2 linked regions of the Homo sapiens genome follow. The protein of the gene in region 1 interacts with the protein of each later gene in a biochemical or structural test. Each region holds a gene or a part of one and is shown on either strand. Other genes may lie near its edges. The genes, in order: USP33 and CCP110.

Region 1 (7,000 bases):
TATGCTCTCCAAACTGGTATTTGCTCAATATAGTGCTGTACCTTCATATATAAGTTTGTAATGACATTTTGTATATTTTCCCTTACGTTTCTATATACACATGTAATGAAGTGGTTAACATTATGTTGCTGATATATTAGGATGCTCAAGAATTCCTTCGATGTTTAATGGATTTGCTTCATGAAGAATTGAAAGAGCAAGTCATGGAAGTAGAAGAAGATCCGCAAACCATAACCACTGAGGAGACAATGGAAGAAGACAAGAGCCAGTCGGATGTAGATTTTCAGTCTTGTGAATCTTGTAGCAACAGTGATAGAGCAGAAAATGAAAATGGCTCTAGATGCTTTTCTGAAGATAATAATGAAACAACAATGTTAATTCAGGATGATGAAAACAATTCAGAAATGTCAAAGGATTGGCAAAAAGAGAAGATGTGCAATAAGATTAATAAAGTAAATTCTGAAGGCGAATTTGATAAAGATAGAGACTCTATATCTGAAACAGTCGACTTAAACAACCAGGAAACTGTCAAAGTGCAAATACACAGCAGAGCTTCAGGTGACAATTTAGTAGTTTGTTCATGAAAATGATAGTATTTCATTTGTAGACATGGGTGTTTAAATAATTGTTACTTTGGGTATTTCTAATTAGAATTATAGTTTAGCAGTATTTGCATGTGAGTATTAGTCATAAAATTATAGAACCCGAGGATAAAAGGAATTTTTTGGGTCATTTAATTATATAAGAAATTAATCCTCCTTTTGAAGTAAACATTTCATCAGATGTCTTTTGTGTAGTCATGCAGTAATCTAAAAAATTGGGCTCCCCAGAATTTTCTCTTTTATTTTAAGCAAATTATGTTGCGATCCTGGAAAAAAGCAAATAACCCAAATTGCAATTTTCTAATTATATACACTAGTAGATTTAGATTGTTGTCATTGGAGTCACATCAGATGTGTTTTAGTGTAGAAGTTGAATTAACTATAGTGAGCCCTGCTGTGATAGATTATGCCATGATACTAGTCAGTGTTCCTTTGAGAAAGAGCATGTGGCCAAATGAAAGTTGAATTGCTTTGTAATTTATCTCTTCAAGAGTTAACTTATCTTGGCTTAAAATGTGGTATGTAGTTTTCCAAAGCACACAAAATTGGGCCATTAGAGGTTCAAATTATGTGATCTTAAAATAAGTGGCAGACATGTAATGTAAAAAAGTTTATTTTCTGTAATTACTGAAGAGTGAGAGTAACTAAGCAATTTATTTAGGTATTTGAATGAATCCAAAATTTCTTCTTGAAAATATTATTAACTATAGGAAGACTTGTGGTTCACTTGGGTAAAGTGCACAGATGCTTTCTAATCGGGAAGACTAGGAGTGTTAGGCTCCTTAATTATACTGATCTTGTGTAGAAGTTGTTAGTGAATAAATATGTCAGGTATCAGTATTGAAAGACTTAGCTTTGACTGCTGTCCAGGCTTTTCTTGTCAAAAGCCCAGTTAAGCCTGATTAGGGACATACTCATCTTTGATTGCTCTGTAACAGGTTTGTTCTTACACATAGTAACAAGGGGATGACCTAAATCAGGAGTCTGAGCTTTTAGGTGTTTTAAGGGCTTGATGAAAAAAATCTGGCGAAGTCTGTAAGGCACACAAACCTAAAACACTTCATCTCTGGTCCGTTAGAGGAAAAAATTGCCAACTCCCCATCTAAATCTCATTAACTTTATTCCCTTCAGAAAGTCCTAGAGTGAGTTGTTTTTTCACTCCCAATATTATGCAGTCTGATTTAGTCATGATTGAAATATTGAGAAATGCCTGTGTGAAAAATGATTTTGCATTATCTGGAAAAATTTCTGAGTACATCCCCTTTCCAGATCTCTTACGAACAATTCTCTTTTCTTCACTCAAATAGTTACTGAGCACATTCCCTTGCCCTGGAATATGTTAGGCACTAGGAATCCAAAGCAAACAATCAAGGTAGCTCTTATATTTTCTTGATTCATCTTATAATTTAATTCTAAAAAAAGATTCTTTCCTGATGAAGTGGTGTATTTTTTATTATAGTAAGATAAAATAACTTATGATTACTTTATACCTACATTTCTTGATTTTGATTATTATGTTAGTTTGGGAGAATAATCGATTTTTCTTTCACATGGTTTTAGAACTTCTAAAAACCTGTCCTGAATATCTTTTTTTTTTTTTTTCCTGAAACAGGGTCTCATTCTGTCACCCAGGCTGGAGTGCAGTGGCATGATCACATCTCACCACAGCCTCAACCTCCTGGGCTCAAGTGATCCTCCCACCTCAGCCTCTTGAGTAGCCAGCACTACAGGTGTACACCACCATGCCCAGCTAATTTTTAGATTTTTTTGTAGAGATGGGGGTCTCATGATGTTGCGCAGTTGGTCTTGAACTCCTGGGCTCAAGCAGTCTTCCCACCTTGGCCTCCCAGTGTTGGGATTGTAGGCGTTAGCCACCCAGCCTAGCCTCTTTTTTTTTTTTTAATGCTATATTTGGACAAACAAGATCCTCTTTGGCTTTGTATTTCCACTGCTCACTTCCTAAACTGCCTGTAATAGTCGTGTGTTATAAACATTAGTTGGGATTGGGCACGGTGGTTCATGCCTATAATCCCAACACTTTGGGAGGCCAAAGTGGGTGGATCACTTGAGGCCAGGACTTTGAGACCAGCCTGGCCAAAATGGTGAAACCCCATCTCTACTAAAAATACAAAAATGAGGTGGGCCTGGTGGCACATGCCTGTAATCTCAGCTACTTGGGAGGCTGAGGCAGAAGAATCGCTTGAATCCAGGATGCGGAGGTTGCAGTGAGCTGAGATCGCACCTCTGCACTGCAGCCTGGGGGACAGAGGGAGACTCTGTCTCAAAAAAACAAGTAAACAAAAATTAGTTGGATTTCTGGGTAGAAGATTACTGTTATTTTGCTTAGTAAGCACTTTGTTAAGTATTTAACTTGACATTTGTTAATATGATTGTGTTCAAAATATCAAATTAAGAAACCTTTAACATTATTGGACAGTTAGAATAATTTTACTATTTAAGGTAATAATGCAAATTTTAAATCTTACAGAATATATCACTGATGTCCATTCGAATGACCTGTCTACACCACAGATCCTTCCATCAAATGAAGGTGTTAATCCACGTTTATCGGCAAGCCCTCCTAAATCAGGCAATTTGTGGCCAGGATTGGCACCACCACACAAAAAAGGTAAAACGTTTCTCTTATTCAGTCTCTTTTGCTTTGGGTCTTAGTTTAAAATGATGGTTTTGGTACTTGATAATTTAAAGTGTTAATTATGAAATATGATTTGATCTTTTAAAATTGATAGCATAATTTTACATAGACATGATTAAAAATTTTGTGTGTTGGTACTCTGCTTTTAAAATTTTACATACAGTTGAATTCACTTTTTCTTGTATAGAGCTTTATGAATTTTAACACTTGCAGCATAGATTCTTGTTACCACCACCACAAACAGAATACAGAACAGCTCTAACACCCCAAAGAATTCCTGCATAGTACTACTTTGTAATCAGATCATTTCTCTATTCCTATGTTCTGGCACCCTTGATCCTCTTTTCTTATTGTTTTGCCTTTTCCTAGAATGTCATATAAATGAAATCATATAGTATGTAGTCTTTTGATTTTTTTAAATCTTTTCATATGTAGTCTTTTGAAACAGGTTTGCCTCTCAGGATAATGCATTTGAAATTCAGATATGTTACTGCGTGTCTGAATAGTTTGTTCCTTTTACTACCAAGTAATGTTTCTTTTTTTTTGTTTTGTTTTGAGATGGAGTCTCACTGTCGCCCAGGCTGGAGTACAGTGGTGCAATCTTGGCCCACTGCAACCTCTGCCTGCCAGGTTCAAGCAGTTCTCCTGCCTCAGCCTCCCGAGTAGCTGGGACTACAGGTGCACGCCACCATGCCTGGCTAATTTTTTGTATTTTTAGTAGAGATGGGCCATGCTGGTCTCGAACTCCTGACCTTGTGATCTCCCCACCTCTGCCTCCCAAAGTGTTAGAATTACAGGCATGAGCCACCATGCCCGGCCTAATATCTCATTTTTTATGGGTATACCACTGTTTATTTACCTACTGGTGGACTTTTGAATTGTTTCCAATTTTTGGCAATTATGAATAATGTTGCTCTAAAATTTATGTATAGGTTTTTGTAAGAACATTTTTTCATTTGTCTAGGACAAATACCTAGAAGTGGGGTTACTGGGTTTTATGTTTGTTTAATGCTTATAGTTGTATTAAACTGCCAGACTTTTTACCAGAGTGTCTACCATTTAGTATTCCTTCCAGGTATATATGGGAGTTCCAGTATTATGTTTTCTTAGAAGAAAACATAGGAGAAAGTCTTCATGGCCTTGGGTTAGACAAAGAGTTCTTAAAGACATTAAAAGCATGATCCATTAAAGAAAAAAATTAAAGATTTTTGTTGACAAAGGACATTCAGAGAATGGAAAGATAAGGTTGGATGTATTTATAAATCATATAGCTAGCAAAGGACATGTATCCAGAAATATATAAAGAACTCTTAAAAACTTTAAATAATAGAATCTTTTCTTCAAATAAAGCCTTACCTGGAGACAAAAACAAATAAGTGAAAACAGAATTGCTCTCAAGTCAGGATAGGGAGACCGAACCCCTTCTATTTCATCTTTAGCTTGATGATGACTTTCATCATCTTTCCCTCACTTTCTAACCTCTTCCCCTCTTCTTTTGACTTGTAAAACATTTAAGTAAACATCCCAGTGATGAAGCATTTGTGGTTTTGTGCTAATTTAGAATTTTGTTCATTTTCTCATATGTACATTTATGGTGGCCAAGGATCATTTATACTTTAAAAAAAAAAACAGGCTGGGTGCGGTGGCTCACGCCTGTAATCTCAGTACTTTGGGAGGCTGAAGTGGGTGGATCATGAGGTCAGGAGATCGAGACTATCCTGGCTAACATGGTGAAACCCTGTCTCTACTAAAAATACAAAAAAATAGCTGGGCGTGGTGGTGGGCGCCTGTAGTCCCAGCTACTTGGGAGGCTAAGGTAGGAGAATGGCATGAACCCGGGAGGCAGAACTTGGCAGTGAGCCGAGATCGCACCACTGCACTCCAGTGTGGGCAACAGTGCGAGACTCCACCTCAAAACAAAAAAACAAAAAAAAACAACAAATATCTTAAGCCTTGTCTGCTTAGTTTCTTTTATTTTTTTAATACTTATGCTCTTTTGAAGAGTATTTTGAAAATTTTCAACACAGTAATTTTTACAGTTTAAGGATTCTAGAGATCATATACAAGTAAGATTGACAAGACAAAAAAAGATTCCAGAGAAAAATGTTAAAGGAGCTGCTTTGATTTTTTTTTAATGTTTTTCAATCCTAGCTCAGTCTGCATCTCCAAAGAGAAAAAAACAGCACAAGAAATACAGAAGTGTTATTTCAGACATATTTGATGGAACAATCATTAGTTCAGTGCAGTGTCTGACTTGTGACAGGGTGAGTATGAGGGTATTAGAATACACAGAAAATTCGTGTCAAATGATTTTTAAAAATGTGACAAGATGATGTGAAAAGTTTAATTCCTTCTCTTTGCTATTGATGAGCATACATGCATTTATTGTGTTTACATCAACACAAATTTGATTCTAGGTGTAGAATTTTTTTTGGAAGTAGCAGCATCCTGTTTAAAGGATGGTGACCCATCATTGGACAGGCACATATTATCCTTCGTCATCTATTTTGGTTACATATAAAGGTGAGAAGTTGCTCAGCAACAAGAATTGGTAACACCTGCATATTCTCCCAGGCTGATGAAATTTGTATACTGGGAATCTGTTGATATTCACAGGTACAAAGCTGTGAATGTATCTCTTACATTTGGTCATATATGGTTTGTAAATATTTTTCCATGTTTAGGATGGGACTCAGATACTAAAGGTAGTATCAAATTCATAGACAATAACAAAGCATACATTAAAATCATCATGAATTTTTTAATAACACTTCTTCAAAGTTTCTTTGAGCTTTTCTTAAGTACAGTTTTACTTTAGTGCAATGATGAATATGAAATAACATCTCAAAAACAAAAAGAAGATTTCAATTATTGTGTTAGAATCTCAAGTCAAATCTAAGAACTTTCAATCGGGTCGTTTTAATGTAGGTTATTTTGGTACTAAATATTTAAGTGGAATTATCAGGCATGTTTTTAGCTATTTAAAATTAGATGCCAGATTTTGTCTCACCCTTTTAAAAAAATATTTTAAAACTACCATCAAAGGTCAATTTTCAAAAATAAATACAATAGTGCTTAAGAGTTTGGACCTCAAGATGCAGTGGCTGGATTTGGGGTGTTTAATGCTGCAGTGTCTGTGATTGTAATGGGGATGCTAATACTACTGCACAGGACTTACGTGAAGATACCTGGTACAGAGCAAGTGTGTTTTGTTTTTTGTTTTTGTTTTTTTTTTTGCTATTATGACTATGAAAGCAGTTCAATTTGCGTGTTTTTTTTTGTTTTTTGTTTTTTTTGCTTATTTAAACATGCTTTGATCTTTAGAGTCTAAAATCTAACCTTGGAAATGTTTTACTGCATTATGTTCATCCCATTTTTAAAACACAAAACAATTTTAGGTGTCTGTAACCCTCGAGACCTTTCAAGATCTGTCCTTGCCAATTCCTGGCAAGGAAGACCTTGCTAAGCTGCATTCATCAAGTCATCCAACTTCTATAGTCAAAGCAGGATCATGTGGCGAAGCATATGCTCCACAAGGGTGGATAGCTTTTTTCATGGAATATGTGAAGAGGTATGTATTTATTTTCTTTGTATTACATGATTGTTAAACCTGCTGTTTCTGCTGTACTGGCAGAACACTTCCTTTTTTTTCTATCAATGATGTTTCAGGTTTGTTGTCTCATGTGTCCCTAGCTGGTTTTGGGGTCCAGTAGTAACCTTGCAAGATTGTCTTGCTGCCTTC
Region 2 (16,267 bases), on another chromosome or scaffold:
GTGAAATCTCATCCCTACAAAAAATACAAAAAAGAGCTGGGTGTGGTGGCGCGCACCAGGAGTCTCAGCTGCTCTAGAGGCTGAGGTGGGAGGATCACCTGAGCCCGGGAGGCTGAGGCTGCGGTGAACCCTGATCATGCCACTGCACTCCAACCTGGGTGACAGAGTGAGATACTGTCTTTAAAAAAATAACAAAACTATGATACTGAATTTTTAAAGAGACCAGAGCTATTGTCTTGTAGAATTCCTTAGATCTTGGATTTGTCCCATTGTTTCCTAATAGTGTTATTTAACTTGTTTCTCTAGTCCCTGTAGTTCCTATGAACTGGAAGTGAAGTTTGATAAACAGGTTAAAGATTTTTGGAATTCTTTGAAGATAGGGCTGGGCGGGGTGGCTCATGCCTGTAATCCCAGCACTTTGGGAGGCTGAGACCAGCCTGGCCAACATGACGAAACCCCGTCTCTACTAAAAATACAAAAATTAGCTGGGCGTGGTGGTGGATGCCTGTAATCCCAGCTATGTGGGAGGCTGAGGCAGGAGGATCCCTTGAACCCAGGAGGCGAAGGTTGCAGTGAGCCAAGATCCACTGAACCCAGTAGGCAAAGGTAGTGAGCCGAGATCGAGCCACTGCACAACAGCCTGGGCAACAGAGTGAGACCCTCTCTCAAAAAAAAAAAATGTAATCCCAGCACTTTGGGAGCCCGAGATGGGTGTATCACTTGAGGTCAGGAGTTCGAGACCAGCCTGGCCAACATGGCGAAACCCCTTGTCTACTAAAAATATAAAAATTAGCTAGGCATGATGGTGGGTGCCTGTAATCCCAGCTGTGCGTTAGGCCGAGGCAGGAGAATCGCTTGAACCCAGGAGGGATCGGGATCGCACCACTGTACTCCAACCTGAGACTCCATCTCAAAAAAAAAAGGAATTCTTTGGAGATGATGCCCTGCACTTCATACTAAATTAAATCAGAAGTTACATAATGTTTAGTTGCCCTCTATTAGTGATGTTTAGTTTGAACACTTGCTTACAGTAGTGACTGCCAGATGGCTCTTTAAAGTACACATTTTCTCCTTTTGATTAGCAAGTAAATTGTATAATCATTCTTTGGTACCATGCAATTAGGAAAAAGTTTTAAAACAACATATTTATCAGCTATTTGATAACACATTGCTTGATTTAATGTGGACCAAAATGTCTGAGGCTTGTTGTGTAGGGTCTATGACTCCGTCTGTTATTTATTTATAAGCAAAATGTGATGTTTATGGACCTAATCCACACTTTTATGTTGTATTTGATAGGTGAATATTGCAACTTTTGAAATAATTTTTTAATGATATATTTTCTATTTGTGTAAGTCTACGATAAGTCTTGACTGTTAACAGTGATTTAATTTCCCAGGACTTAATAATTAAGATTGAAATCCATTATAAAGAGATACAATGCTTAGAAGCCTTCCATTTTTTAGGTACATTATATTTTTATCAGAAGGTAGAGTGAGGTGAAAGAAAAGATGTATTCTGCTTTTGTAGGCAAATAATATATTATCTGTTTATTTTATCATTAAACCTTTGGACATTTTTTGAGGCAGCAAAGAGTTAAATTGTGCACTGGTTAGAAAATTAAAAGTTGTAGAATCCAGTTGATCCAGTGAAATAAGATACTGAAGATGGGCCAGGCGCGGTGGCTCGCGCCTGTAATCCCAGCACTTTGGGAGGCCGAGGTGGGCAGATCACAAAGTCAGGAGTTCGAGACCAGCCTGACCAACATGGTGAAACCCCATCTCTACTAAAAATACAAAAATTAGCTGGGCGTGGTGGCACGCGCCTGTAAGCCCATCTACTCCGGAGGCTGAGGCAGGAGAATCGCTTGAACCCAGGAGGCGGAGGTTGCAGTGAGCCGAGATCGCACCACTGCACTCCAGCCTAGGTGACAGAGCAAGACTCCATCTCAAAAAAAAAAAAAAAAGGATACTGAATGTGAAGTAATATTCAAGTCAATATTCAAGTGAAGTAATAAAAAACTCAGCAGTGGCCAAAAGGGCCTTAATTTTATTTCTGTCATTTTAGAACATTTGATTAGTGAACAAACTTTTTTCTTTTTAACCTTTTAACTGAAAATAATTTACACATAGCAAAATGCACAAATCTTAAGTGTTAAAGTTCCATGAGTTTTGATATATGGCATACACATGTATAACTCACACCCACACAGGATTTTCTTCACCATGGAAAGATCTCTAATGCCCCATCCCACTCAGTACCCAGACCATTGTTCTGATTTCTTTCACTATACATTAGTTTTGCCTGTTGCACATGTTTTTAATCTTTCTGATTCACAACTTCCCGATTTTATGATATTTTTATCGTGGGAAATAATTACATTTTTATGATGTTTTGCAGCTTAACATTGAGAAAAGAAAGGAAATGCAACAAGAAAAGCAGAAAGCACTTGATGTAGAAGCAAGAAAGCAGGTTAACAGGAAGAAAGCTTTACTGACTCGTGTCCAGGAGATTCTTGACAATGTTCAGGTGTGTGATTTTAGCTGTTTCAGTTATAATAAAGAAATCATAAGATAAGCGTTGATGATAATTTTTCTGAAATATATTTGCACTTAACTAATTACTAATGTACTTTACTGTTACGTTTGAGAAGCTTCATAATTTGTGATTTTCCATTTCAGTTACTCCAAAGAGAATGTACTTGCTTGTTAGTAATGCCCAGTACTTGAATCAGAGGATATTTACACAATAGAACCATACACTGAATATAATTGCTTATTGTTTGCATCTTATGACTCTAAAAACATTGAATTCTCAGTGACAAAATGACAGAATTGGGTATTATTGTTTACCCCAAACTAATTAGACTATTGACTAAATGACCTTATTCTCATTCTTTGCTTAAGTAAATAACTGCCTCCAATTTTTTTTTGGTGAAAACTCTTAGATACACAAAATGCAGTTTAGATAACATTGAATTGTTTAGATGCATCCTATGTCTAAAAACTATTTAAACAACACATCTACACCTTGTGCAGTTATTTTTAGATTTGTATAAACAATTTGTTCTGACATGTGGATCATTTTGTACTAAAAAGAAAAACAAATGAATTAGATTGAACGAATAATTTCTACAACATATAGCAGTGTTCTGCTGGTAACATCTTTTTGTTTTTTCATAATCTTAGGAGTTTGTGGTTTGTCTGTTTAATTCGTATCGATGACACGTGTATAATGAACCTTAAGGGTTCATTTCTCTGTTGGTAGTGTAAACTGAAGAAAATGACTGAGGCAAGTCTCAATCGATTTAGAGGTTTGTTTTGCCAAGGTTGAGGATGTGCCAAGGAAAAAGAGACAAAAGTTACAGTAGAATCTGTGGCTTATGCTTTTCCAGAAGAGGTTTTGAGGACTTCAGTGTATAAAGGGGAGAGAACAGCAGGAGGGGAAAGAGGAAAGAAAAAAAAAGGAGGGTAGGTAATGAGATAAGCGATCACATTTTTGTGAGGCTTTGATTAGCACTCACTGAATCCACAAGTCGCATGAGAAAGGTGGGGGTAGAGGAACAGTCAGTTATGCATTCATCTCAAGCTCAATAAATCTGCATTTTACATAGGATAAAGTAAGCAGAGTAGAGGAAGAAGTCAAATATACATTTGTCTCCAAAGGGATGATTTCTAGTCATCTTTGGTCTTTGTCCGTATCTTGTCAGAGTGAAATTCAGCAGAACTCTGGGTTGGTGTAAAGATTTTGGGGCCTACGAGGAATTTCCTTGTGAGCAATTTGCAAGAGAGTCTACCTGGGTAGATAGGTGGCCTTCTATTTTGCAGCTATCTGTTTAGGAATAAAAGGAAGGCAGTTTTTGTGTGACTCAGTTCCTAAGCTTTACTTTTTCCTTTGACATGTGATTTTCCATTTCAGTTACTCGAAATCCCTATGTAATGAGTCTTCAGAATCTGATGAAAAAGTCAAAGGAATATATAGAAAGAGAACAATCTAGACGCAGGCTGAGAGGTAGTATTAAGAGAATTGTTAATGAGAGTCATAGTGACTCTCATGTGACATAGTTGAGTTTGGGGTCCTGAGATATTATTTCCCTTTCACAGTAGTATATAGTGTGTGGGTAGTAGATTTCATTTTGCAGATTATAATTACTGTCCATATTAAGTTTAAAAAATGTATTGAGTAGCACTAATTTAACAATAAGAGGTAGGTTTTTTACTTACTACGTATTTCCTGTGATTGAAATGAAAATGGCATATCATTCTTGGTCCATTGAGGGAAGATAAAATATACTACTAATAAAATTGTTAAAAGAGCATGTATAATGTTGAACTGTAATGAATTAATTATTCAGATAGGAAAATTTTATATAATACAATTAGATTTCTGCTTCACCTGTAAAACCTAAGATTCTATGATAGATTTTTTTCTTGTTGTTATTTAACTTGTCTAACTAAAGGCTCATTTTAGTGACGTATAAACAACATAGCTTCCGAATATCACAAATGTGAAATATTTTACGTAAGGAAATCATCTGTTTTACTTAAACCTGTGAACATGTTCATGGATTTCATAAATATGCATCCTTTTTGTTTTATTTTGGTCCTGAGGCTGTGACTAAGTATGTCTTGTACTCTTGTACTGTTGATTGCATAGTACCTGGAAACCTTTTTGCATCTTTTTTGTTTTATTTTGGTTCTGAGGTTGTGACTAAGTATGTCTTATTGTACTGTGTATTGCATAGTACCTGGAAACCATTACCTGTCTTGGGATTTGTAACGTAAAATAGGAGAGCCATGTGGTCTAGAAAAAAACAAGCACATTCAAAACAACCAAAAAATATTGTAATATTCAGACTTTTTTTTTTTTTTTTTTTTTTTTCTGAGATGGAGTCGCGCTCTGTCGCCCAGGCCGGAGTGCAGTGACGTGATCTTGGCTCACTGCAAGCTCCGCCTCCCAGATTCATGCCATTCTCTTGCTTCAGCCTCCTGAGTAGCTGGGACTACAGGTGCCCACCACCAAGCCCAGCTAATTTTTTGTATTTTTAGTAGAGATGGAGTTTCACTGTGTTAGCCAGGATGATCTTGATCTCCTGACCTCATGATCCGCCCGCCTCGGCCTCCCAAAGTGCTGGGATTACAGGCGTGAGCCACCATGCCCCGCCAGTAGTCAGGCTTTTGATGTCTGTATTCATATGATAATACAATGATTTTTGCCAGTTTAATATACGGATGTATAATTACCTTTAGAAACTATCCTAGTTCTCTTTTTATTCTTTTGCAAAGTTGGATTATTTAGATACAAAATATCTATTTTTACATTCATTCATTCATTCATTCATTCATTTTTGAGACAAAGTTTAGTTAAACTTTGGAGTAAGCATGTAGGTGCAGGAGTCTTATTACTGAATCATTTTTGCTTAATCAATGTCCTGGACAAGTTAGTCTTTGTTAGAGAGGGAATCGTTTACGTAAGACATTTCATTACTTGCTGTTTATTGCATATATTATTATCCTTGGATGATAGCTATCCTAGGAGGAACAGTTGGTAATGTTAATAACATATGACTAGAAGAAATTTAAGTGCTTGTATTCTAAGATTAAATTGCACATGGATATATGAATATATGTGTGTGTGTATACACATATATATGTTCATATTTGTATCAGATTAGATGTTTCTTTTTATAACTCTTTTATAACTCTTTTAATAACTTAGGCAGGATGACCAGTAGGCATCTTTTCAATAATAATTTGAGCCCCCTGTGATACAGGATACCGTAGAAACCTGTCATCTTAGTTTTTCTTTATGTTTTGAAATGTCAGAATTCTGAATTTTCAATTTCAATTTTATTTTAGAAAACAGTGAAATCAGAGACTTTTTGTGCAATGAGGAAATATTAATTTTTAAATTTCCTGTTTCAGGTTAGAAAAGCACCTAATGCCAGTGATTTTGATCAGTGGGAGATGGAAACAGTTTACTCTAATTCAGAAGTCAGAAACTTGAATGTTCCTGCTACATTTCCAAATAGCTTTCCAAGCCATACGGAACACTCTACTGCAGCAAAGCTTGATAAGATAGCTGGGATTTTGCCATTGGATAATGAGGACCAATGTAAAACTGATGGAATAGACTTAGCTAGAGATTCAGAAGGATTTAATTCTCCGAAGCAATGTGATAGTTCCAATATTAGTCATGTAGAAAATGAAGCTTTTCCAAAGACCTCTTCAGCAACCCCACAAGAAACTCTTATTTCTGATGGTCCCTTCTCAGTAAATGAACAACAGGATCTACCACTTTTGGCAGAAGTCATCCCAGATCCCTATGTAATGAGTCTTCAGAATCTGATGAAAAAGTCAAAGGAATATATAGAAAGAGAACAATCTAGACGCAGTCTGAGAGGTAGTATCAACAGAATTGTTAATGAGAGTCATTTAGACAAAGAACATGATGCTGTTGAAGTGGCTGACTGTGTAAAAGAGAAAGGCCAGTTGACAGGCAAACACTGTGTCTCAGTTATTCCTGACAAACCAAGCCTTAATAAATCAAATGTTCTTCTCCAAGGTGCTTCCACTCAAGCAAGCAGCATGAGTATGCCAGTTTTAGCTAGCTTTTCGAAAGTGGACATACCTATACGAACTGGCCATCCCACTGTTCTAGAGTCTAATTCTGATTTTAAAGTTATTCCCACTTTTGTTACCGAAAATAATGTTATCAAAAGTCTTACAGGTTCATATGCCAAATTACCTAGTCCAGAGCCAAGTATGAGTCCTAAAATGCACCGAAGACGTTCCAGGACATCATCAGCGTGTCATATACTTATAAATAACCCAATAAATGCCTGTGAATTAAGCCCTAAAGGAAAAGAACAGGCAATGGACTTAATTATTCAAGATACTGATGAAAACACAAATGTGCCCGAAATTATGCCAAAGTTACCAACTGATTTAGCGGGAGTTTGTTCAAGCAAGGTTTATGTGGGCAAAAATACATCTGAAGTCAAAGAAGATGTGGTTTTAGGTAAATCAAATCAGGTATGTCAATCTTCAGGAAATCATTTAGAAAATAAAGTTACTCATGGACTTGTTACTGTGGAAGGTCAGTTAACATCCGATGAGAGAGGCGCACACATAATGAACAGTACCTGTGCTGCGATGCCAAAGCTGCATGAACCATATGCCAGCAGTCAGTGTATAGCAAGTCCAAACTTTGGAACTGTGAGTGGACTCAAGCCAGCCAGTATGTTAGAGAAAAACTGCAGTTTGCAAACAGAACTGAATAAGTCTTATGATGTAAAAAACCCTTCTCCTTTATTGATGCAAAACCAGAATACGAGACAGCAGATGGACACACCTATGGTGTCCTGTGGAAATGAACAATTTTTGGATAACAGTTTTGAGAAAGTTAAACGGAGACTTGATTTAGATATTGATGGTTTGCAAAAAGAAAACTGCCCTTATGTCATAACAAGTGGAATAACTGAACAAGAAAGGCAACATTTGCCAGAAAAAAGATACCCTAAGGGATCTGGCTTCGTTAACAAGAATAAAATGTTAGGAACTAGTTCCAAAGGTAAGGAATCTTTGAAGCGTTTGATACCTTCTATGCAGATACCTTTATTTTAATACTCTTAATTGACATTTTTGGGAAAAAAGTGGTCTTTATTCATATGGGCACTTAATTTTATTTATCTTATTAGAAAGCATATTAGTCAGCTACAGTTTATTGCCATTTGATAGGCTTTCTTAAAGATTTTCTTGAGACAAGGTCTGGCTCTATCACCCCAGTTTGGAGTGAAGTGGCATGACTTCAGCTCACTACAACCTCCGCCTCCTGGGCTCAAGCCATCCTCCCACCTCATCCTCCCAAGTAGCTGGGACTACAGGCTCATGCCACCATGCCCGGCTAATTTTTGTATTTTTTGTACTGTAGAGATGGAGTTTCTGGCATGTTGCCCAAGCTGGTCTCAAACTCATGAGCTTGAGTGAGCCTCCCGTCTCAGCCTCCCAAAGCTGTGGGATTACAGGCGTGAGCCACGACACCCAGCCAGGATTTTCTTTTTTGAGACAGTCTGGCACTGTTGCCCAGGCTGGAGTGCAGTGGCACAACCTTGGCTAACTGCAACCTCCACCTCCCGGTTCAGGCAATTCTCATGCCTCAGCGTCCTGAGTAGCTGGGATTACAGGCGTGAGCCATCATGCCTGGATGGATCTTCTTATTTAAATGATGAAGCTTTCATAGTCCACTTGGTATTATTGAGAATATTAATAATTGGAGGAAACAGTTCTTTTTTTTTTTTTTTTTTTTTTTTTTTTGAGACAGTCTTGCTCTGTCGCCAGGCTGGAGTGCAGTGGCGGGTTCTCACCTCACTGCAACCTCTGCTTCCTGGGTTCAATTGATTTTCGTGCCTCAGCCTCCAGAGTAGCTGGGATTACAGGTGCTTACCACCTGGCCCAGCTAATTTTTATATTTTTAGTAGAGATGTGGTTTTGCCATGTTGGCCAGGCTGCTCTCAAGCTCCTGGCCTCAAGCGATCCACCCGCCTCAGCCTCCCAAAGTGCTGGAATTACAGGCATGAGCCACCGCACCCAGCCCCAAACAGTCTTGCCTGAAACATCACTTACAGTTTTAATTCACTGTATTGCTATGAGGTCTTTCTTTTGGACTATAGTTTCTAATGTTTATTTCAGTTTGCTTTTTCATTTGTAGTATGAGCTTCGTGTAATTGGTCCTTCAGTAAACACTTTAACATCAAATTATTAGACAAAGTATCAGAAATAAGGCTCTGAGTAGGTGGTTCAAGAACGGTTCTTTAGGCCGGCGCGGTTGCTTACGCCTGTAATCCCAGCACTTTGGGAGGCCGAGGTGGGTGGATCACTTGAGGTCAGGAGTTCGAGACCAAACTGACAAACATGGCGAAACCCCGTCTCTACTAAAAATACAAAAATTAGCTGGGCGTAGTGGTGCACATCTTTAATCCCAGCTACTTGGGAGGCTGAGGCAGGAGAATTGGATGAACCCAGGAGGCGGAGGTTGCAGTGAGCCGAGATTGCACCATTGCACTCCAGCCTGGGTGACAGAGCCAGATTCCATCTCAAAAAAAAAAAATAATAATAATAAAGGTTCTTAATTAATAAAAATTATTATTTCAGTTTTTTCTGTTGTATCCATTAACAGCAATTTATTAAAGCACGTTTTTCTCCTTCATTACCCCTTACTTTGTTGTCATTGTTGATAATTCTTTATTACTGATATAGAAGACATACAAATCAAGTAAGTTAAGCTCTTAGGGCTTATGGGAAATACAGGGTTGGGTCAGACTGCTTAAAACCTGTGCAACTTTTTTTTTTTTTAATTTTTTTTTTTTGAGACAGGGTCTTGCTCCGTCACCCAGGCTAGATTGCTGTGGTGCGATCTCAGTTCACTGTAGGCCTGGGTTCAAGCGATTCTCCTGCCTCAGCCTTCCAAGTAGCTGAGATTTACAGGCATGCGCCACCACGCCCAGCTGTTATATTTTTTGTGGAGACAGGGTTTCACCATGTTGGCCAGGCTGGTCTCGAACTCCTAGGCTCAGGTGATCAGCCCTCCTTGGCCTCCCAAAGTGCTGGGATTACAGGTTTGAGCCACCAGCCCTGGCCCATCCTGTGCAACTTTATAAGAGCTCTAATAAAAACAACCACTGTTACCTGGGGAGCCAACTTGGATCCTCCAAGTAGATAGCATAGCAAGGCAAGAGGCTGCCTCAGTGAATATCAGAAGTACATAAGACCAACAGAGTGGAAATTTCTTTTTTTTTTTTTTGAGATGGAGTTTCACTCTTGTTGCCCAGGCTGGAGTGCAATGGTGCGATCTCAGCTCACTGCAACCTCCGCCTCCCAGGTTCAAGCGATTCTCCTGCTTCAGCCTCCCAAGTAGCTGAGATTACAGGCATGCGCTTGTATTTTTTCAGTAGAGATTCGGTTTCACCATGTTGGTCATGCTGGTCTCGAACTCCTGACCTCAAGTGATCCACCTGCCTTGGCCTCCCAAAGTACTGGGATTACAGACGTGAGCCACCACACCTGGCCCATACTTGGTATTTGTACATTTCAACATGTCTTACCACATTCTATTTAGGAAGCTTGTATTGTCATAATGTTTTCTCTTAGTTAGTAACTAAATATCTGGAATTTTAACGTCCAGTCCTTTTTGAAACCTCAAGCTGAGAAAGCTTTATACCATCAAGGAAACACTTTCTTTGAAAATCAAAACAAGGCAAAACTACAAGCTACACTACCAGAGATCCTGGAGGACAAGTGTCAAAAAAACAAATGATGGTAGGATGCAGTTGAGGACCACATCTGAAAGTTAAGTAGAGTCAGGAGAATCTTGTCTGAATATATAGTCCTGGGTCTGTCATTTCAGATCAGGATGGGATCTGTTGAATGAGTGGGTAAAGGTGATGCAATACAGGTCTTACTTTATTGAGTAGCATGAAATAAAAGGAGTGTGGTTCGAAGTAGAGACCCAGCTATATCTTGATTGTATTATGTCAGATCCAGGAATACTCTCTTGTCAGAAGGATAATTTAAATTGATGGTATAAAATATCAGACATTAGACTTGTGAATTTTCTAAATTGAGGAAACATGTTTCTTTTCAGAAAGCGAGGAGTTACTAAAAAGCAAGATGTTAGCTTTTGAAGAAATGCGGAAGAGACTAGAAGAACAGCACGCCCAGCAATTATCACTACTCATAGCTGAGCAGGAAAGGGAACAAGAAAGACTGCAAAAGGTGAGGAATGTGGAGGGAGATACAACTGGTAAGTGAAATTTAGCCAAGGATACCTATGAATTTTGGTCATGTATAGAATACGTGTAATTTTTGCCTCCATATATCTTAAGGTAAGGGAGTCATTTTGATACGTGAATGGTATTTTTTGTCAAAATATGAATTTTGATATTTAGATCCTTATCTAAAAGTAATTGCATAATTTATCGAGAATATTTTATTGAATCCTTGATTTAAAGCTTAATATTTTAAAAAGGTATTTTATAAATAGGTGCTAAAGTACACATTCTGCAGGAGTTGTATCATAAAAATGACACTCATGCTGGGCGTGGTATCATGAGCCTGTAGTCCCAGCTATGCAGGAGGCTGAGGTGGGAGGATTGCTTGAGCCCAGAAATTCAAGGCTGCAGTGAGCTATGATTTCGCCTTTGTCTAGCCACTGCACTCCAGCCTGGGCAACAGAGGGAGACCCTGTCTCTATAAAAAGAAAAAAAAAAAGAACGACACTTGTTATAATATTATTATAATTAATAATTTAACTATACATTATCACATATTAAATTATAGCCTGGGCGTGGTGGCTCACGCCTGTAATCCCAGCACTTTGGGAGGCCGAGGTGGATGGATCACCTGAGGTCAGGAGTTTGAGACCAGCCTGGCCAACATATAGTGAAATCCCATCTCTACTAAAAAATACAAAATGGTGGTGTATGGACCTGTAGTCCCAGCTACTTGGGAAACTGAGGCAGGAGAATCACTTGAACCCGCAAGGTGGAGATTGCAGTGAACCGAGATCGTGCCACTGCACTCCAGCCTGGGGGACAGAGCGAGATTCTGTTTCTTGAAACAAGAAAGAGAGAGAGAGGAGAGAGAGAGAGAGAGAGAGAGAGAGAGAGAGAAAGGAAGGAAGGAAAGAAAAGAAAAGAGGGAGGGAGGGAAGGGAAGGGAAGGGAGAAGGAAGGAAGGATAATTTGAGGAAGAAAAACTTGAAATAAATAATAATTGCTGATAATTACATGTACTTTTGGCTAAGCCTAAAATGATATCATTTTGGGACATAATTAAAAGGTTTAGCATGTTACAATAAACTGTTCATGTATAGGAAATAGAAGAGCAGGAGAAAATGTTAAAAGAGAAGAAGGCAATGACAGCGGAAGCCTCTGAGTTGGACATTAACAATGCAGTGGAATTAGAATGGAGAAAAATAAGTGACTCTAGTTTGCTGGAAACAATGCTGTCTCAAGCGGACTCACTCCATACTTCAAATTCAAATAGTTCTGGTAAATATTTAAAAATCCTTTTACATTTGGGAAAGTGATCCTACGGTAAGATATTTATTTGGCACACTATAAGATTATATCTCCTGTTTTCAAATGATTCCATGTCCAACCCTCTTTGCCAGCTGCTTAGTAACCAGTGAAAAATGACATGATAGGAGATCAAAGACTTGTGAGCAGATGTTTGTGAACAAAGATTACCTTTGCCAGGAAAAGATCAGGAAATTTGGCTTAGAGCCCAGTCTGATCATTCATGCAGCAGGTGATATACTTCAAGTGAAAACAGTTTGCTCTCTCCTGAGTGATCTTGAATTACCTCTAATTCCCTAGTCCCTTTAAATAGCTTATCTTCATATCTCAATTATCCTGAGATGCTGTTTGTGTTGAAAAGATCCACCTGGTATGTAAGCTTTAAAGTCCATAAATATTTTAAGTCGGCAGGTAGGTCATTTTTGGAGGCAGTTGTTATTCTTAATGAGTGTCACAAGTGTTTATTGGGATGTTCTTCGTATTCTAATTATATGACATCAAGTATAATACTATATGTATGTTTCTCTAGGTTTCACAAATTCTGCCATGCAATATAGCTTTGTTTCTGCAAACGAAGCACCATTCTACCTCTGGGGATCATCAACTAGTGGCTTGACCAAACTCTCAGTAACAAGGCCTTTTGGAAGAGCCAAAACTAGATGGTCTCAAGTGGGTAAACTTAATGATACATGTCCATCTATCTATTTATCTTTTCTTAAGAGCTATATTATCTTAGACTGTATAAATGAACACCAATAAACATTGTGTCTGTCTTCTTTCTCCTAGGTTTTTAGTCTGGAAATACAAGCAAAATTTAACAAAATAACTGCAGTGGCAAAAGGATTTCTTACTCGTAGACTTATGCAGACAGATAAGCTGAAGCAACTTCGACAAACTGTAAAAGTAAGATTCCTGTAAATCGTTTGTATTTCACTTCTGTCTTAGTTTCTATCAGTCTTGTGACAGCTGAGCTAACAGATTAGTTCAGAACTTAAACGCTTTTTAGTCACTGTAATCTAGGCAGTTTTAGAAGTCTGATTGTTTGTTGCGGGAAGTCAGGGACCCCGAATGGAGGGACCAGCTGGAGCCGCAGCAAAGGAATATAAATTGTGAAGATTTCATTTTAATATGGACATATATCAGTTCCCAAATAACACTTTTATAATTTCTTACTCCTGTCTTTACTTCAATTGCTGAACATAAATTGTGAAGATTTCATTTTAATATGGACATTTATCAGTTCCCAAAATTAATACTTTTATAATTTCTTATGCCTGTCTTTAATCTCTTAATCCTGTTATCTTCATAAGCTGAGGATGTAGGTCACCTCAGGACCACTATTGTGTTAACTCTACAAATTGATTGCAAAACATGTGTGTTTGAACAATAGGAAATCAGTGCAACTTGAAAAAGAACAGAATAACAGCGTTTTTCAGGGAACAAGGGAAGACAACCATAACTGACTGCCTGCGAGGTCGGGCAAAATAGAGCCATATTTTTCGTCTTGCAGAGAGCCTATAAACGGACGTGCAAGTAGGGAAGATATTGCTAAATTCTTTTCCTAGCAAGGAATATTAATAATTAATACCCTGGGGAAGGAATGCATCCCTGGGGGGAGGTATATAAACGGCCACTCTGGGAGTATCTGTCTTATGCGGTTGAGATAAGGACTAAAATATGCCCTGGTCTCCTGCAGTACCCTCAGGCTTACTAGGATTGGGAAATTCCACCCTGGTAAATTTGTGGTCGGACCAGTTCTCTGCTCTCAAACCCTGTTTCCTTTTAAGATGTTTATCAAGACAATACGTGCACAGCTGAACATAGACCCTTATCAGTAGTTCTGATTTTGCCCTTGTCCTGTTTCCTCAGAAGCATGTGATCTTTGTTCTCCTTTTTGCCCTTTGAAGCATGTGATCTTTGTGACCTACTCCCTGTTCTTGCACCCCCTCCCCTTTTGAAATCCTTAATGAAACTTGCTGGCTTTAAGGCTCAGGTGGGCATCATGGTCCTACCAATATGTGATGTCCCCCTCGGACGCCCAGCAGTAAAATTCCTCTCTTTGTACTCTTTCTCTTTATTTCTCATCTGGCTGACACTTATGAAAAATAGAAAGAACCTATGTTGAAATATTGGGGGCTGGTCCCCCCAATAATCGTTAATCTTTCTCAGATAATATTATGAATAACATGTAAATGAAGCAGTTTGTGTGTTTTTGACTTGCTTGAAAGTGAGTGGTTTGACTTCTGATAAGTAATAGTTTTATTTATGTTCTTAGTACAGTCGGTCCTCTATCTCTGGGTTCCACATCTGTGGATTCAACGAACCATGGATCAAAAATAATTCAGAAAAAACAAATGATGGTTGTGTCTGTACTGAACATGTACAAATTTTTTTTCCTTGTCATTATTTCCTAAACAATATAACAACTATTTACATAGCATGTACATTTATTAGGTATTTTAACTAATCTAGAGATGATTTAAAGTATATGGGAGATGTGCTTAGGTTATATGCAGATAACTATTTTATATAAGGGACTCCAGCATCCTTGGATTTTGGTATCTGAGGGATTCATGGAACCAGTCCCCCACAGATACTGACGAAAGACTGTAATTTTGGATTGACTGAGAAAAAGAAAAAAGCAAACTCCAGTGATCACAAATCTTTCTAGAAAAATGTTTTTGAAGGAGCATTTCTTTTTTCAGGATACTATGGAATTCATAAGAAGTTTTCAGTCAGAAGCACCATTAAAGAGAGGCATTGTTTCAGCTCAAGATGCTTCACTTCAGGAAAGAGTGTTAGCTCAGGTAAATACATGGATCCTGAAGGCTTTTAAGACATGGACATATTATATTTCTCCTTTTTTATTTAATCACTGAAAATAGGTTTCAATGAAAACTATTTTAATCTTTTTCTATAAATAAGTGTACATGGTATATAGTATTCCTGAACTCTAACCTCATCTTTTAAATGTATACAATATTTTCTTCTCTTGTGCCTAGTTGCGAGCTGCCTTGTACGGTATTCATGACATATTCTTTGTAATGGATGCAGCTGAAAGAATGTCTATTCTACATCATGATCGAGAAGTTCGCAAAGAGAAAATGCTCAGGCAAATGGTATGTTATATGATTTCTAATGAATAGAGTTCTTCTGGGTTTAGGGTAATTGATACTAAATGTCAGTTTTGGTTGACTTCAGCACCCTTCTTCTGATAATTCTTAAGCACAAGTAATTCCTGGAATTACTAGCAGCATTTAAATCTGTAGACAGATTTAAAAGAATTACATCATTTAAGAATTACATATTGTTTTCTTATTGGATTTTAGAGTTGAAGCTTTGAATGTTTTGCTCAGATGGCTTATACAATCTATCAGCTGCTCCTGATTGAATTTCCTTGAATTCAATTATAATGTGGGTTTTGCTTTTTTTGAAATCTGAGTTAGAAAACAGGCTCCAAGTTAATTTGAAGTATATCAGAGTATGTGATTTGAATCAGTTATCTTAGTGTGATTGGCAAAGGAAAAGCAAGCAAAATTTACATAATTCTAATTATTTAATTCTTAGAATTAGACTGCTTCAAAAATACAAAACAAGATGATTTAACTAAATTAAAAATGTTAGTAGAGAGAAGCTTTTCCAGGCAATGTGGGATTATAATACATTATAATATAGTGGTATTAATTGGTTCCAGTAGAGTTTGACGTTACTTTTGTATATTAAAGGATAAAATGAAAAGTCCACGAGTGGCTCTTTCAGCTGCAACACAGAAGTCTCTTGATAGGAAGAAATACATGAAGTAAGTTTTTTGTATCATGTCATGTTAGTTATCAAACCAATTAATTTTAGTCATCTGTTGGTCTATTTGCATATTTAAATTTAGAAATAAAGAGTTAATTTTTCTGCAGTTGAGCTGATAGAAATCCCCTTTATATAAAGAAATTTATTAAAATCAGGTGCTAAAATCTCATTTCATCTTAGATGAATTTATTTACTAAATTTGACAACATTCAACTCATATAACTGATAGCTGGTTAATCTTAAAAACAGTTAATCTTTATATTCAGTGCCTAAATATATTCCTTTTCTGATGTCCTAAAGGTTTCTTGGGAATAAAGACTTAATGGGAAAAATATCTTAATAACTTTTTTAAAAAATTCTTCTTTCTTGAATGCAGTCTTTAATATGCTT

What was found.
Region 2: of the proteins of USP33 (region 1) and CCP110, one has a biochemical effect on the other in vitro, tested with the Homo sapiens proteins (one study listed by BioGRID).

Annotation. Positions count from the first base shown.
Region 1 is NC_000001.11:77,721,853-77,728,852, reverse strand, and holds part of USP33 (ubiquitin carboxyl-terminal hydrolase 33), read left to right. Parts: intron 1-140; coding exon 141-558; intron 559-3,090; coding exon 3,091-3,231; intron 3,232-5,409; coding exon 5,410-5,522; intron 5,523-6,656; coding exon 6,657-6,829; intron 6,830-6,927; coding exon 6,928-7,000. UniProt on the Homo sapiens protein: Deubiquitinating enzyme involved in various processes such as centrosome duplication, cellular migration and beta-2 adrenergic receptor/ADRB2 recycling.
Region 2 is NC_000016.10:19,530,016-19,546,282, forward strand, and holds part of CCP110 (centriolar coiled-coil protein of 110 kDa), read left to right. Parts: intron 1-2,400; coding exon 2,401-2,529; intron 2,530-5,924; coding exon 5,925-7,572; intron 7,573-10,641; coding exon 10,642-10,772; intron 10,773-11,871; coding exon 11,872-12,049; intron 12,050-12,605; coding exon 12,606-12,745; intron 12,746-12,862; coding exon 12,863-12,979; intron 12,980-14,781; coding exon 14,782-14,883; intron 14,884-15,078; coding exon 15,079-15,195; intron 15,196-15,801; coding exon 15,802-15,875; intron 15,876-16,267.